Regions from separate parts of the Homo sapiens genome. Here region 1 is linked to region 2. Evidence: fine-mapped expression QTL. Tissue or cell type: lung. Region 2 holds a variant in brackets; the other region holds the start of a gene. All regions are shown on one strand. Distances are between the middles of the regions.

Region 1 (2,907 bases), 24 kb before region 2:
AAGAACGTTTGCTCTTTGAAAGGCACCATAAGATAATGCAAAGAAAATATTTGCAAATCACTGCCTGATCATGTCCTTATATCCAGAATAAAACACCCTCAAAACTCGATAAGAAGACAACCCAATTTCTTTTTTAATGGGCAGGAAATTCAAACATGCTATTCAATAAAAAAAACTTATCCTTAGCAAATAAGTACATGAAAAGACATTCAATACAATTACTAATCAAGGAAACTCAAAACCACAATGAGATACTGCTACACACCAATTAAAATTTAAAAGGCTGACTATATCAAGTGTTGGTGAGGACAGAGAACTGCAACCTTCATACACTGCTGCTAGGAATATAAAATGATACAACCATTTTGCAAAACAGTATGGCAGTTTCCTAATAAGTTATAAAAGTCCACCTACCACATGACCCAGGCATTCCATTCCTAAGTGTTTACTCAAGGAAAATTAAAACATACGTACTTTCGAAGATTTGTGCACCATATTCGCAGCAGCTTTATTTGTAATAGCCAAAAGGTAAACAACGCAAATGTCCAATAGTGAATCGCTAAACAAATTGTAGTCTATCTGTACAATGCAATACTATAAAATAAATTTTACTTAGCCATAAAAGGAAGAAACCATTGATATAGGCAACAACATGGCTGAACCCCAAAACAGTTATCCTGCCTAGTATATACTCTATGGTCCATTTACATAAAATTCTAGAAAATGCAAACTAATTTATAGTGACCTAAAGTACATCAGTGCTTGCCTGGCCAGGTGGTTTCGGGAGGAAGGGGTTACCAAAGGGCAAGGGAAAACTTGCAGGGATGATGATATGTTCATAATGTTGATCTCGGTGATGGTCTCACGAGGGAAACATTAAAATTTATCAAATTGTACACGTTGAATATGTGCAATTTATTGCATGTCAATTATATCCAAATAAGAGATTTTTATAAAGAAAAAAATAGGTATTCTGGCGCCCAGGGCCACCCAGCTGTAAGCGGCGGGGTGGGATTCCAACCCAGAAGCGGGCATTTGGAGCCCTCATGCTTCACCCTAGCTCCCTGAAACAAGCACGGAGGATGGCTCTGAGCAGCGAGGAAAGTGCTGGAAGCAAGCAGGCCGAGCGCGTCCCTGGCTGGGGACGTTAATCATTACCGGAGGGCGGCCCGAGCGCGGCCCCGCCCCGGGACGGCAGCCTGCGCGCCCGGCCGCCGCCTGCCCTCTCCGCTGGCCACCTGCTGCCGCCCGCGCCATGGTGAGTCCAGGGGTGCGCGGCCGCGATCGGGGCAGCGGGGCCGGGGCAGCCGCGGGCGAGGTGGGAGCGGGAAGGGGCGGGGGAAAGTCTTTTCGAGTCCCCTGCGGAGCCGCCGGGGTCCGAAAGTGGGGTCTCTGCCCGGCTCTCTGTCGCTGGCGGCGGGGAGGGGAAGCTGAAGCCCTGAGAGGGGCGGTGGCGGGTTCGAATCCCACCCAGTTGGGAGGCCAGGCCTGCCCTGACCCCGGCCAGTGCTTGTTCCGGGACCCTTCCGGGGGCGGGGCCTACGACCTTCCTGGGCCGGGGAAGACAGTCGTGGAGGAGTCCACGGATCTCGTCCCCTTGGTGGCCCGATTCTGCTTTATACTGGGGTGGGAGCGAGAGGGAGGCTGAGTTTGCGCGCTCGTGTGCGTGCCTGTCCGCTGCCCCTTCCCGCTGGCACTCTGGGTACGGGGTCTGCCTGGGACTCACGCTCTGCGCCGGTATGCTGGCCCCAGAGCCACTCCCCGCGCCGGCTTGAGGCCCGTGCCAGGCCACGGGGGCTTGGTGGCGCTGGAGCAGCCCTCCTCCCGTGAGCTTCCCCCACCCACCCCCGGGGCGGGGGCGGGGGCGGGGCCCTTGCTCTGCTGTAAGCTCGCGAGCTTCATCAGACCATTTCTGGTCCACAGGCCTTCGGAGCAGGCAAGACTGGGAGGGCCTTTTGATAGGAGAGGGACTTGGGGGAGGGAGGATGAGTGGGGCTGTTTGTGAGGGGCGCTGAGGTCCCAGAGATGCAGGCTTGGGAAATCGGTAACCACTCCCCACACCTCGCCAGAGGAGGCAAACGGGGCAGCGTCCCCCTCTCTGTCTCCAGAGCCGGCACCTGGAAGGTTTGTCAGTTCAGCCGCAGGCTGTGCGACCTGGGGGGTTCCAGAAGGCTCTACCGAGAAAGGGAAGCCTCCTAAGAGCTCACCTGGACTCACCCACCCCTTTAAGAGCCAAGGAAGTAAACAGTGGGCTCTGATGCTTTGGCTGACTTCTGGTTGTCTAGATACACGGACCAGGCGGTCAGCCACGGGGAGAAGGCCAGCTCTGGAGTAGAGACCTACCTACTGGGCAGATGATGCAAATCGCTGCTGCCATTCAATCCCTATAGTCATCCAGAGCCGAGGGGAAGAGAGGGGCCAAGCTACATCAGTCCAGAGAGAGCTCACGTTTTCAGGAGGGAAAACAGCAGGGAAAAAAGACGGACTTAGGAAAGCACTGCGATGCTTCAGCTACCCCAAATGCTACCAGGCCCATCACAAGCCTGCTTGCCTTAGGAAGTTTTTTTTTTGTAATGCAGATGACATTTGCTTTATAGCAGTGGAGTTTCCTAAAGTGTCCCATTGGCACCTCATGATGATCTGTGGAGGTGGAGGTTCTGCCAAGAGAGGTACAGCCACCTGGCTGGTAAATGGTGAAAGCGGGTCTCAAAACTCCTGCCAATCAACACATGGTGTCCAGTCTGCAGGCTGCCTCATAAAAGCTAAATCAACCTCCCTCACATTCCCTCCCCACCCCTAAGGGTATCTTTTCAATTCAGCACTCTATTTCTGCCCTGGGGTGGTGCTACTCTAGAAGCCTAGGTTCTGGGATCTGTTAAGCTCCTAGACCTGGATCCTCCTAGGATG
Region 2 (2,907 bases):
TATTTGTTATGTCATTCAACTTCTTTCAACATGTATAAAAACTCTCACTTTAACATATGATATGTATTTCAGAAAACAAGAGAACAACATCTACTTGGAAAATTTTCTTTCAGATGCTGTTTGGATCTGATAACATTAGCACAAGCCAAGAAGAATGTTTCACATGGTAACCTAATTTCTTTTAGTATGTGAAGTTACCTCTATCATTGTAACTGAGACAAATAAAGTTAATAGAAGGAAAGATAGTTTAAGGCTGAAGAACAAAGAATGAGAGAGCTTACAACTCTTAACTCTTAGCTAGGAATAACCTAAAGACTGCCCAGCCATTTGGTTTTATCTTCTGGCTTCCCACCTCTGAACAGTGAACTCTTTCTTCACTAGAAGCAGCTCATCCAGAGAGAGAAGTAAGAAGCTAAGGGAGGAGTGGGGGAGACAGAGTGGGAGAGGGAAAAAGACAATACCAGTGCTGATTAGTTATTTTATAAAAGTCTAAATATTAGAAGAGCCTGGGAATCAGACTCTATCCTTCTTCTGATCCCTCACACGTGCTGAAGATCAAAATAATAGAGATATGGTTTAATTGCAGCAATGCAAAAAACCCCTAGGCCTGGACTTCAGGAGTAAGATGGGAAGAAAAAAAAAAAGGGTGAGTGCAGGGAGAGAAAAGAGTCAAAATCTACAATAACAACAACCAAACAAGGAAAGAGAGATAATCTAGGCAATAAACTTCAAATATTGGCAATCAAAAAAAAAAAAGAAACAGTGAAACAGCAGAGAGCAGAAGTAAGCAAAACACTAGTTTCTAATCAGCCCTTGAAACTGTACCGCAAAGTCAGCAAAATCCTGAGAATTTTCCTTTATACCCCCAAATCTGCAGAGGCAAGCTGAGGGGGTTTCCTTATTTTCTTCTTCTTCTCATGAGTGAGTGGTAAACATGGCTGCTAGGGAGAAATGAGCAAAATGAAGAGAGAACATCAGGATTGGCTCTTTAGAGTGAAGACTTCAGTGAATTAAATAATCAGAGCTCAAAGGGTATATTATCTCTTCCAAATAAGAGAGTGAACTCTGATAGGTAACTTTGAAGAGAATCTCAGAATAGACCTGGTTATTCTAATACAGATAGAACAAAGCTTTGGCTGAGCTTTGTCCCCAGCCAAATGGTCTCAGACAGGAAGCACCCACAGTGCATAAGAACAATGTCTGGAGAATGCCACCCCAAGATGAGAGAAAATGGCAAGGAAACTATGCAAACAAACTAAAAGGCAGGGGAAAAGGTAGTATGTAGCATGCAAAATAAAAACCCAACACAGAAGGAAACAAGCTAAGGGATGAAGGAAACCCCTTATAACTTTCTCACTATAGGAAAATATCATAAGAACATGAATTTAAGAAAACAAAGAGTTCAAAACCTAGACCATGAAACAAAAAGAATGAGCTACAGACCTAAAAAAACAAAGCCAGTAGCATCCATACAGAACTAACAAAGACATTAGGAACAGCAAGGAATAAAATAAACATTGCCAAGAATAAAAATGCTGACTTCAAGGAAAAGGTCTGAAATAAGTTTATTGAACCCAGATTTAAAAAAGACAGAGATTGAAAGATCAATGCCACTCCAAATGTGGAGAACTGTGTTCAATCTGGCCAGAGGCAACCAAAAGTCATACAGAGAATGACTGCGATGGTTGGAAGTCTGTGAAATCATATGAAAAGCGGAGTAACCCAGAAAAATGTGGGGCAGAGAAGATTCAGGGAGAAAGGGGCTTTCAAATAGACGAAGGTCTGT[A/C]ACATGGAAAAAACAATTATGGAACTTCTATTTCTAGCAATATTATATACCTTGAGCAACCTTCCTAACTGAAATAACTAAAAAACTTGATAAAACATCAAAAAAAAAAAATTTAAACCTATCACTAACCTAACATAAAGAAACTTGCTAAACCCCCAAACAAAGCAAAATCAAGAATCCTGCAAGATAAGTGAGTGGCAAAACTAGCTTTCACCCTGAGGTGGCACCAGACCCTTCAGACTTCAAACTCCTACACTGACAGATGAGCAAAGGATGGACCAGAAGATACATTAGAGACTGCCCAAGATAAGGAGTCCAACAGGAGATGGCTGGAAAAAGACCACACTCTACAGTGTACAAGAAATAAATCCCACTACTGCAAAAGAGAAAAGAAAAACTGTTTTTCTCAACCCTGATGTTCAAGTAAAGAAAAATAGCAATCTTTCAAGAATGTGTAACAAGGAAGCCTTTATGTGAGTTTGTGGTCAGAATTCACACTACCTCTGTGGTACAAAATGACAAGCTAAGGATTTGACTTAATTTGGTTCCAGTGTGGTGGCAATCCCCAGCAACTCAAAAAGGTATGACAAATCTTCTCTGGAAGAAGAGAACTTCCAGACTTAACTTCAATCTAGGCCTCAAAGAATCCCTAGGTTCCCAGAAAAATGAGTGGCTCATAAAAAAATAAATAAATAAAATAAAATCACAAATATAAGGAAACAAGGAACCATGACTGAAGCCAGCAGAATCAGGTAAGGCTCATGGATATTGGAATTATCAGACACAGAATACAACATATTTATGTGTAATATATTTAAGTAAACAAAAGTTAAGCCAAGGAAAAGGACTATAAAAAACAACCAAGCAGATTAAAAAAAAAAAAAAAAAAAAAAGACGGCCAAGCGTGGTGGCTTACGCCTGTAATCCCAGCACTTTGAGAAGCCAAGGCAGGCAGATCACTTCAGCTTGGGAGTTCAACACCAGCCTGGGCAACATGGTGAAACCCCATCTCTACTAAAAATACAAAAATTAGCGAGGCATGGTGGTGCATGCCTGTAGTCCCAGCTACTCAAGGGGGCTGAGGTGGGAGGGTCGCTTGAGCCCAGAGAGGTCAAGGCTGC

The links. PIP is the estimated chance that this variant, and not a neighbour inherited with it, causes the effect.
Region 1: PCBD1 starts here. The variant in region 2 is fine-mapped to the expression of PCBD1 in lung (TOPMed, PIP 0.92).

Annotation. Positions count from the first base shown.
Region 1 is chr10:70,886,882-70,889,788 of GRCh38, reverse strand. It overlaps PCBD1 (pterin-4 alpha-carbinolamine dehydratase 1), which reads left to right and starts at 1,224. Exons shown (of 4, transcript NM_000281.4): 1 at 1,224-1,258. The coding sequence starts at 1,256. RefSeq lists silencers at 1,108-1,357, 1,688-1,967.
Region 2 is chr10:70,863,062-70,865,968 of GRCh38, reverse strand. The region is part of intron 7 of SGPL1 (sphingosine-1-phosphate lyase 1); the gene reads right to left. Among named protein-coding and RNA genes, the nearest start is that of PCBD1, 24 kb to the left of the region's middle. The variant A/C (reference allele first, on the strand shown) is at 1,787.